Linked DNA regions of Homo sapiens. The gene in region 1 interacts genetically with each later gene. Each region holds a gene or a part of one and is shown in the gene's direction. Other genes may lie near its edges. The genes, in order: WDR7, SEC22B and BNIP1.

Region 1 (3,655 bases):
AGAAATCCTACATCATGACTGCATTCAGAAAGTCCTTGTGAGTCCAAGGAAATTTTTACTTCCTTTCTATTAAGGAACATATATATTACATTCATGAAGTATTTACTATTTTAAATAAAATTGGATTTTTTTTCAAACTATGTTGGTGACGTTTAATGAAATTACAGGGGTTTTTTTTTTTGGCTGTTGATTACTTGAGTTAGTGGGAGCCATAAAATGTTGGAACAACGAATGTTAGGGCACTGGTCAGTTTAGGGGAGGGAAGATTTCTGAAGTGCTAAGCGTTATTCTGTAGGCTCTTTAAAATATAACATTTCTGGAGATATGTGACTTTGTTTTTTTGTTTTGTTTTGTTTTTGACACAGAATCTCGCTCTGTCGCCCAGGCTAGAGTGCAGTGGTATGATCTCGGCTCACTGCAACCTCTGCCTCCCCGGTTCAAGCAATTTTTCTGCCTCAGCCTCCCAAGTAGCTGGGATTACAGGTGTGCACCACCACACCCAACTAATTTTTGTATTTTTATTAGAGACAGGGTTTCACCATGTTGGCCTGGCTGGTCTCAAACTCCTGACCTCAAGTGATCTGCCTGCCTCGGCCTCCCAAAGTACTGGAATTAGTCATGAGCCACTGCGCCCAGCCTGGAAATACATGACTTTGAAAATGCAGTCTCCCATTCAGCTTAGCAGTTGTAATTTATGACCCTACAAGCTCACTGAAGATAGTTTTTTGCACATCATGTTTCTCTCTGAATGTTGGTAGTTGGTATATGTCAGTGATAACAGACTGATAGAGTGAGCCAGTTACCTTCTGTTTTCACATTCAAGTTTATTTCACATTTAAGCTATCTTCCTTAAAGGCTCTTCTTTTTTCTAAATGTTTCAAATACAAATAAACAGTATAAACTTCCATTAGTTGGAGCAAAAAATTCACACGAATGAAATATCACTGTACTTACTTACTTTTTTTTAACGACAGAGTCTCACTCTGTTGCTCAGACTGGAGTGCAGTGGCATGATCTTGGCTCACTGCAACCTCCACTTCCTGGGTTCAAGCGATTCTCCTGCCCCAGCCTCCTGAGTAGCTGGGACTACAGGCGTGCACCACTGTGCCCAGCTAATTTTTGTATTTTTTTTTTAGTAGAGATGGGGTTTCACCATGTTGGCCAGGCTGGTCTTGAACTCCTGATCTTGTGATCTGCCAGCTTTGGCCTCCCAAAGTGCTGGGATTATAGGCTTGAGCCACCGCGCCCGGCCCCCTGTACTTACTTTTAAGAAACAGTGTTGTGATTAATTACTAGGCCTTAGTGACTGTAGTAGTGATTATGTCAGCTAATTTGCTTCATAGGCCCTAAGATATATTTTGCTGTGTATATGTCACGATAGACTAAAAGAGGCAGGAGCGTAGGTAAAACCTGTAGCTGGGGAAAAAAACAATATGTTAATGACATTTTGATTAAGGAGGCTTGTATTAATTGTTGACATTATTATAGAAGAACTAGTTGACAAGAAACTGCCCTGTGAAATCCAAAACATATAAAATCGGGATATACTTTAATTTGCTGATGGGTGCAACTTTACTTAAACCAACGCAAACATATTTCATTCACTAGTTTGTTTATTTATTCAAGTATTTGGATTCCTTCTATGTGGAAGGAATTTTAGGCACTGGGAATACAATAGAGAAGAAACCAAACACAGATCTTTACCATCATAGAACATACACCAGGAGAGGCAGATGATAAATAAATAAAACATATGGTATGTTAAATGATTGTAAGTGTTTAGTTTGAGTGGTAGATTTTGCAATTTATGATGGTCAGGAAACTCTTCACTAAAAAGGTAATATTTTATAGAGATTTGAAGAGGGCAAAGGAGTGTGCCAGAAGGAATCTGGGGTGGGGGACACTGTTCTGAGGTAAGATTCTGTTTAGTATCTTTGAGCAACACCAATGAATCAGAGCAGATGGAAAAGAGTAAGCAAGGGAGAGAACAACCACCTCACTCATATAGGATAGGCAGTTGTATGTAGAGTTGGCTTTTGCTATGTGTGAGACAGGAAGCCATTGGAAGATTTTGAGATGTGATCACAGCATGATTTTTTTTTTTAATAGTGTCACTCTATATGCTGTGTTGAGACTGCAGGGGAGCAAAGATGGAAACAGGGAGACCAGTTAGAGGGCTGTTGTGTTATCCCTGATGGAAGATGCTGATTGAGAATAGGGTGGTTGTAGTGAAAGTGTTGAGATGTTGCAGGATTCTGGATATGATTTGAAGGTATAGCCAGTGGAGTTTACTGATGGATTGGGATGTGGAATGTGTATGTGTGAGAGAGTAATAGAGTAACTAAAGATGATTCTAGGATTTTGGTCTGTGTAGCTATAAAACTGGAGTTGCCAATAACTAAGATGGGTAGACTGTGGGAGGGGCACCATTGAGGAATGATCAGGGGCTCACTTTTGGACATGCCAAGTTTGAGAAACTTATTAGCTATCCAAAAGGAGATGTTGAGTAGGAAGCTGGACATACTGATTTGGATTTCAGAAAAGCATCCCACACAATAAACTGGGGAACTGTCAAAATCTGCAATCCAAAATGCTCCAAAATCCAAAACTCTTGAGCATAAACATGACACTCCAAAGAAATGCTCATTGGAGCATTTTGCATTTTAGATTTTTCAGATTAGAGATGCTCAACCTGTAAGTATAATACAAATATCCCCAAATTTGAAAAAAATCCAAAATCTAAAACACTTCTGATCCCAAGTGTTTCAGATAAAGGATACTCAACCTATAGATGGTTTAAAGCAATGAGGCTTGATGAGATCATTGAGGGAGGGAGTGTTGCCAGAGAAGAGAAGTCTAAGGACTAAGTTGTGGGAATGCCAATATTTAAAGGTTAAAAAAAAAAAAAAAGAAAGAAAAGAAAGAAAGGAGACTAAAGCTAGAGAAGAAGAAGGAAAGTCAGGAAAAAGTGAAGACTTTGAGGCCAGGTAAAGAAGTATTTATTTCAAAGACGGAATATGAACTATGTCAAATTGCTGGTAGGTCAAGTAAGATAAGGGTTAGAACTTGATAATGGATTTAACAGTGGGGAGGTCATTGGTGACCTTGTCAAGGGCAGTTTTTGTGACAGGCAGAGCAGGAGGAGGGTAATGTTACAAATGAGAAGTTTAACTTGAGACATCACATATTTCCTCAGAGTTTAAAATGGAAATGGAGAGCTGGGTTCCTCTCTAGTTAGTGTGACTTTCATACCTTCACAGTTGCCCATCTTATTTTAGTGATTCCAAGACTAATGTGACAATTCAGCTTCAAATTTGGGGAAGCATGTTTGTTTCTTCTTTTTCTGTTTAATTCAATTTATATACAACGAGAAAGTTCAGTGCTCAGTTTAGACTTTTGATGGCAACCTAAGGGAAGAAATTGGAATGACTGGAGATGCAAATGAGATTAGAGGTGGGTGGCAGGAGAAAGTCGAAGTTGGTTCAACCAAATGGAATTTCCTTTAAAAAGTAAGGTCTTGGTGGGCATAATGGGCTTTTAGCTTAATCAGTAACTCTTGAAATTGCTGTAGGTTGGTGATGGATACAGCATAAGCAGAAGAGTTCATTCATTATAATATCACCTGCAGAAATTTAAAACATGATTTATATGCCTC
Region 2 (3,655 bases), on another chromosome or scaffold:
AATATATTTATTAAATACCTCTTACCATATTAAATATATATTTAATATATATTAAATATATTTCCATATAACATAAGTATATATTTCATATATTTATATTAAAGTAGGCAAACATATTTGGATAATTAAATATTTTTATATAATTTCGTATATTTTTTTGAGACAGAGTCTTGTTCTGTTGCCCAGGCTGGAGTGCAATGGCACGATCTTGGCTCACTGCAACCACCATCTCCTGGGTTCAAGCGATCTTCCCACCTTATCCTCCTGAGTACCTGGGGCTACAGGCATGTGCCACCACGCCTGGCTAATTTTTGTATTTTCTTAGTAGAGATGGGGTTTTGCCATGTTGTTCCGGCTGGTCACAAACTCCAGGGCTCAAGCAATCCACTCACTTCAGCTTCCCAAAGTGCTGGGATTACAGGCATGAGCCACAACACCCAGCCCTTTATATAATTTTAAAAGTGTAGGTAATTAGGTAAAATTAGGTTAAAAGTATATGTATATTTACCTGATATTTAAATATTACCTAAGTGTTTAATGTGGACATGTAAGCTCTTTAAAGATAGTGCTTATGTATTTTATATCTGTTTCACATACTCCTTATATATCCCCCACAGAAATGGTCACAAATAGGTTCCTTAATAAGTATTTTTGAATTCAGCCATGCTATATATTCATTAGTAAGTGAGTTTTCTTTTATTATGAACTACAAACTTTAACCTTTTTTTGAGTAGTGAGCAGTTATTCATTTACCTTCACACTCTTTAAATACCAAATTTTGAGTGAGTGAGTGTGTAAGGTTTTGTCATACAGACTTGCAATTCCTATATGGGATAAAGTAGACTAGCACAGGAATTTTTCTTGTATCACTCATGCAAGACTCTAAATTCCTTAAAGGCAGGGATCATGTATATTTTGATCACTGTTGTATCCTCAGCACTTCACATGGTGCCTGTCACATAAATATTTGTTAAATGACTTCTCCAAGCAATAGCTTTGTCTTTATGTTATCCTGTATTTCAAAACGTTCATATATAAATTCTCTCAACTATGACTTGTTTCATAGGGTCTAATAATTGTTCCTCTGCTGAGTTATTCTCAGCAGATTTAGATTCATTTAGCAAATGTTTATTGAGCACTAACTATATACCAGGCCCTGTTCTGGGCATTCAGGATATAGCAGCAAACACAATAATTTAAAATCCCTGTCCAGTGAAGTGTATATTCTTGTAGGCTCTGTAAAAAGATGCCCTGTGCATTGTCATGGTTGTTTCTCAGTCCCTGACTCTTCTTCCGTGACTAGATGTTTTTCTTACTCATGTGATCAGTTGCTAATTCAGACGTGGCTGTCATGCCTGTGTTATTAAGTAACGCCATGTTTCCCAATCAAAACCAGTCTCTATTAAGCAACTCCAAATATTCCAAAAGCATTCTTTAAGGAAGAAACAACCGGATTGCAAAATAGTTTTTTCTGAAATTTCAAGAAGTGAAAAGTTTGATCAGAATTTATTATGTCAAATGGAGAGTTTGTGTTTATTATTAAAATATGCCTTATATTTTAATATGGTCTAGCTTGTGTCTATCTGGCTATTTCTCTAAGTGTTTAGTTAACTGTTATAAGAAGATAACAACATTACAAATGTCCTTGGGGGTGAAAAAACTTGCCAGAAAATACTAAAAAGCTTAATTTACTTGCGTTTTTTTTTGTAGTACTTATTGTATTTTAGTTACAACTTTCCTATGTCTATTGAAATATAAATCCTGATAGCTTTAACTTCATAGTAGTCTCTACTATGTGGAGAATCTTAGAAATGTTAGCAGTCATCATTGAAGTATAGCTTAAGACTGTGTTTGGTTAATTGAATTTTCTGGTTATCTGAGTTTGTTTTACATGGGTTATCATTATCGTTTTTCAAAATATAAGAGAATATGATTCAGACCATTAGAAGATTATGAAGATAATAATTATTAACATGTAATAATTATTATAATTTATCATGTGCAGGCATTGTTGCTCACTTTACAGGCAATCTCATGTACATACAACTTTATGACATAGTTACTGTTATTATCCCCAATTATAGATGAAGAAACTAGGTTTTAAATAGGTTACATGACTTGACCAATGTCACATAACTTGTACAGGTGATATCTGAACCAAAGAGTCTGAGGCCAGAACCTGCACTTCTAACCACCTTACTATATAGCCTCAAAAATTCAGACATCATCTGATCAGCATCATCAGTTAATTAGTATATGCAATGTTAGCCTTAAAATAAAAATGATGATTTAAGATTCATGGTTGTTGCAGTGCTGCTCATTTTGGTTTGCCTTAATACTTTCGGTAAAATACTTCCAGGGACTAATTAATGTTTTCCTTTTTTCCTCTTTGACAGCATTGGATTCAAAGGCTAACAATTTGTCCAGTCTGTCCAAGAAATACCGCCAGGATGCGAAGTACTTGAACATGCGTTCCACTTATGCCAAACTTGCAGCAGTAGCTGTATTTTTCATCATGTTAATAGTGTATGTCCGATTCTGGTGGCTGTGAAATAATGAATACAGTCACTGGTAAGGGAGAACCTAGAACCCAGTAGGTGTATATTTTCAGGAAACTGAGCTCACAGAGATGTGTATTAGAATCCAAGTGGAACTTCTGCCTCTAAAGACCTTGCAAGAAAAGAGATGCCCTGAAAATGAAAGGTTGCACCTCATTTAATGAAGCTTAACCCTATGTAGAAAGTCTCTTTCGGGGGCAGAGGCTTTCTCTGGGTGCCAAGCCATATATATTAGGGAATAGTAGATTGTTAATTTCGTTTTTTCCCTCCCAGTGCATTTTAAAAACAGCACTGGCTGGGGCATTCTCATTCTCTGATGGAGCCATCAATGAGATTTAACTTAGTCAACCTGTGCTAGCAACATTCTGAAATTCCTTCAAAGAAGGCAGTCCTTTGGGAAGGTGTTTTTTTTTTTTTTTTTTTTTTTGACTCTAATCAACATTCCTTTTGTTGGTGACATTTGTGATTTTCAGTAATCTGAGTTTTTGATGGCCTTTTAAACAAGACTCCAGTATGTGAAGGTTAATTGCTGTGCTCCACAGATCTTGTCTATTGGCCCCTGTAGAAAGTTAACCTTTGTTGTTTTCCTTTTATAATTTGCTTATTGCACAATTGCTTTAGGGTAAGTGAATTATATTAAGATGCCTTGAAATTATAGCACTCCTTGATTAAGAAGCTAAAATGTTTCTCTCATTTACTCCTTAAACAAAAGACTTAAATTAGTTTGGGTCATTATTACTTTTATTTTGCAGCATTTGGTTTGTTATTAGCGTAAGAGCAAGTATAGGATATGGAGAGGCCCCTGGCTTCATGAGAACAAAGGCAGGCCCAGGTTATAATTACAGCTTTCTCCTGCCCCTTCTTTACTTTCTCTACCACAGTTTTCTCCACTGTTTGTTTTCCTCTTGCCACAATTTGCTAACATTTAAAAAATTTTCCTGCACCCAGTAGTTTCATATCCTGTAGACATCCTCTTAGGACATTCTCAAATTTCAAAATAAAAAATATTCATCTATGTAGTTAATTAAAGTTAAAGTTTTTGCAGATCAACTACTCAAACTACTAAATACATTTACCTGAGAAAAAGTCTCTGAGAG
Region 3 (3,655 bases), on another chromosome or scaffold:
TTCACCGTGTTAGCCAGGCTGGTCTCGATCTCCTGACTTTGTGATCAGCCTGCCTCAGCCTCCCAAAGTGCTGGGATTACAGGCGTGAGCCACCGCGCCCGGTCAAAACTTATACTGTTAAGTATAATTTTATTATACGTATATTGGAAATTTTTCCATTTCAGTAATCAGAGACTGTCCTCATTTTTCTTTTTTTTTCTTTTTTTGAGACAGGGTCTTGGGCTGTCACCCAGGCCAGAGTGCAGTGGCACAATCTCAGCTCACCACAGCCTTGATTTCCCAGGCTCAAGCGATTTTCCTCCTGCCTCAGTCCCCCAAATAGTTGGGACTACAGGCGTGCGCCACCACACCCAGCAAATTTTTGTAGTTTTTATAGAGACAGGGTTTTGCCATGTTGCTCAGGCTGGACTTGAACTCCTGGACTCAAGTGATTGCCTGCCTCAGCCTTCCAAAGTGTTGGGATTACAGGCAGGAGCCACCACACCTGGTCTCTCATTCTTTTCTAAATAACTGTCATTTTTTTTTTTTTTTTTAGCCAGTTCTCTATCAAAGGGCATTTATTTGGACTGCTTCCACATTTTTTTTTAAGCTAACTTATTCCCTGACAGACTTTTCTTCAACTCAGCATGACTTCAACTCTCCAACTACACCTGTTACCTTCAGTGTGAGTATTTGTATGTTCTTTTTAAACATCTGGGTGCCCACCCAGTGTTTATTTCCTTCACTCATTAAAATGACCTCACCAATACGTGTACATTTACATATTTATTATGGCACCTAGGAAGGACCTAATAAGCACATGGCCAGTAAATGAATAACCCCATCCCAGTTTTAATCTGCGTTTCTTAAGTATTTACATACTCTTTTTGTATCTGGAAATAAATACAAGATTCCTGTTTGTTTGCCATTTTTAGCTTTTATTTGAATGTCTTTTTTGTGTATTTCCAACAAGATCATGTGATACTAGAGAACTGGCCTCATATCCTCAAAACTGGGTGTTCTGCACATGGTGAATCTTGGGCACTGACTGTGTATAAATATCTGTGTGTTTGTCTTTGTACATATAGCTCTCAAACTGGAATTTGAGGACTGCTCTCCCCCGCCATTCCTTTCTCCAGAACTATCACTGGTTCTCTTTGAAAGAACTTCCAGGCAATCTTTCATGAGTAAATTGTACATTTCTCCCCCTTTTTAATCCCTCCGCTTTTCCCATGCGTTCATTCTTCCATTCAGTGACTCAGTGCCCAGTATGTGCCAGGCACAAGGAATATATGTAGTGAATAATGTGAGATACAGCTCTGCTTATTCATAGAATTTACATTCTTTTTTTTTTTTTTGAGACGGAGTCTCACTCTGTTGCCCAGGCTGGAGTGCAGTGGCACGATCTCGGCTCACTGCAATCTCCACTTCCCGGGTTCACGCCATTCTCCTGCCTCAGCCTCCCGAGTACCTGGGATTACAGGCGCCCGCCACCACGCCTGGCTAATTTTTTGTATTTTTAGTGGAGACGGGGTTTCACCGTGTTAGCCAGGATGGTCTTGATCTCCTGACCTCGTAATCTGCCTGCCCTGGCCTCCCAAGGTGCTGGAATTATAGGCGTGAACCACCAGGCCCAGCCCATAGAATTTACATTCTAATAGGGAATACAGATTTTAAACAAATAATTATGAAAATAATTGATGACATTTGCAAAACTTTTCTAATTCACAGTTGATTATTTCTTTTATTCTCTACCTCAGCAATATTTGGAGGCATAAATTGAAAGTCATCTCTGTGCTATTGAAATGGTGGATACACAAACTTGTTCCAAACCAGTATGTGCAAATTGATACGTAAATCAGTAAATTAGTATATAAATGAGCAAATACATTGATGTTTCAGATCAATAGCGTGATTGAAGCTAGAACCTGTTTTAATTTGTAAACCAAAAAATGTGATTGGTATAATGCTATCTTTAATTATAGTCCCTCTTGATGGTTCTTTTATCTGAAGTTCTTGGGGTTTAATACTTCTGGGTATGTCTGCTGACCCTAACTTATAGTGGGTTATTTCCTTGGTGTTAGGTTATTTTGGACTGTGAGCGCTCATCTTAGCAGACCTTATCTGAGGGACTTTGTGCAGCTGGGTCGAGGCCAAGTCTCTACAGAGGTTTTTGCATTAGCTTCCCGCCAGGTCTCCTGAGATGATCACAAGTCTGACAACATTTTTTTTTTTTTTGAGACAGTCTCTCTCTGTCGCCCAGGCTGGAGTGCAGTGGCGCAGTCTTGGCTTGCTGCAAGCTCTGCCTCCCGGGTTCACGCCATTCTCCTGCCTCAGCCTCCTGAGTAGCTGGGACTACAGGTGCCCGCCACCACGCCCGGCTAATTTTTTGTATTTTCAGTTGAGATGGGGTTTCACCATGTTAGCCAGGATGGTCTCGATCTCCTGACCTCGTGATCTCCCCGCCTCGGCCTCCCAAAGTGCTGGGATTACAGGCGTGAGCCACTGCGCCCGGCCGAGAACACTGTTTATGTTCATTTCTCTTCATGGAGTTTCACGAACCACTCAGGGAAGATAAATTGAACCCTAGATCAGTGGAAGGAGCAGCTCCCTGGTTGGTTATAAATTCTCAGGGGAGTTTTTTTTTAACCCCTCTATTTGGAACTCATAGCAAAAAAAGGCAAGCATCTATGTTTTCCCTCTGTGCTGGTAGATGGACATTTTTTTATACCATTTTCCTGTGTCTGTAACCTTTCGTGGGTTTTAGATTTGTGGTGATCTCAGTTCAGCTTCTCAACCTCAGCCTCAGATGGCTCAGGGCTTCATTTTTCTGTCCCTGCACGAGCTCTCAAACCTTCAAGCGCTCAAACTGCCTATTACTCGTCTTTAATTAAATAGGCACAGAAATTGTGAGTATCTGGAAATGAACAGCAGTTTGATATTTTAATGATATCTAAGTGGGGGATCAGTGTGCTTGTATTTCGTCATTGTTTTTCTTTTCCTTTCGGGCCTGCCCTAGGTGACAGGAGCAGCAGCTCTGACGCCAGGACAGCCGTGCATCACTCCCAGGCTGACTATTCCAGCTCTTGTTCCCTTCCCACTTTTGGGCCATAGGGGTTTTCCTTACTTCCTTGTGGACTTAGCTATAGATTTAAAAGGATGTGTGTTATATGTTACCTAGCATTCCTAGGTGTTCTGTTTTAAAAGGGTGCTTCAAGTGCTATTGTATGCCCTTGGCAGAAATAGAAATGCTCTTCTGCTTTCATGTTGACTTTTGAAATCATTTTAACATGGAATTATTTTTCCTCAAAGGACCTGGAGCAGTTGGCTAAAGAGCAAGACAAAGAATCAGAGAAACAACTTCTACTCCAGGAAGTGGAGAATCACAAAAAGCAGATGCTCAGGTAGGCAGGGCCTGCCCCCGCCAGCGGCTTCTGCTGGCTCTTCTTGTTGCCTGTGAGCCTTGCACGTGTGTTTGCCTGATGGATCTGCTTTAATGCTGACTTAATGGTGTCTTTTTTTTTTTTTTGAGAGACGGTGTCTCGCTCTATTGCCCAGGCTGGAGTGCAGTGGCCTGATCTTGGCTCACTGTGACCTCTGCCTCCCGAGTTCAAGCAATTCTTCTGCCTCAGCCTCCTGAGTAGCTGGGATTACAGGCGCCCACCATCACGCCTGG

The links.
Region 2: changes in WDR7 (region 1) and SEC22B together harm fitness more than expected from each alone (negative genetic interaction), as found in Homo sapiens cells (one large-scale study listed by BioGRID).
Region 3: changes in WDR7 (region 1) and BNIP1 together harm fitness more than expected from each alone (negative genetic interaction), as found in Homo sapiens cells (one large-scale study listed by BioGRID).

Annotation. Positions count from the first base shown.
Region 1 is NC_000018.10:56,657,764-56,661,418, forward strand, and holds part of WDR7 (WD repeat-containing protein 7), read left to right. Parts: intron 1-3,655.
Region 2 is NC_000001.11:120,155,934-120,159,588, reverse strand, and holds part of SEC22B (vesicle-trafficking protein SEC22b), read left to right. Parts: intron 1-2,396; coding exon 2,397-2,551; 3' UTR 2,552-3,655. UniProt on the Homo sapiens protein: SNARE involved in targeting and fusion of ER-derived transport vesicles with the Golgi complex as well as Golgi-derived retrograde transport vesicles with the ER.
Region 3 is NC_000005.10:173,151,031-173,154,685, forward strand, and holds part of BNIP1 (vesicle transport protein SEC20), read left to right. Parts: intron 1-535; coding exon of another isoform or gene 536-664; intron 665-3,291; coding exon 3,292-3,383; intron 3,384-3,655. UniProt on the Homo sapiens protein: As part of a SNARE complex may be involved in endoplasmic reticulum membranes fusion and be required for the maintenance of endoplasmic reticulum organization. Also plays a role in apoptosis.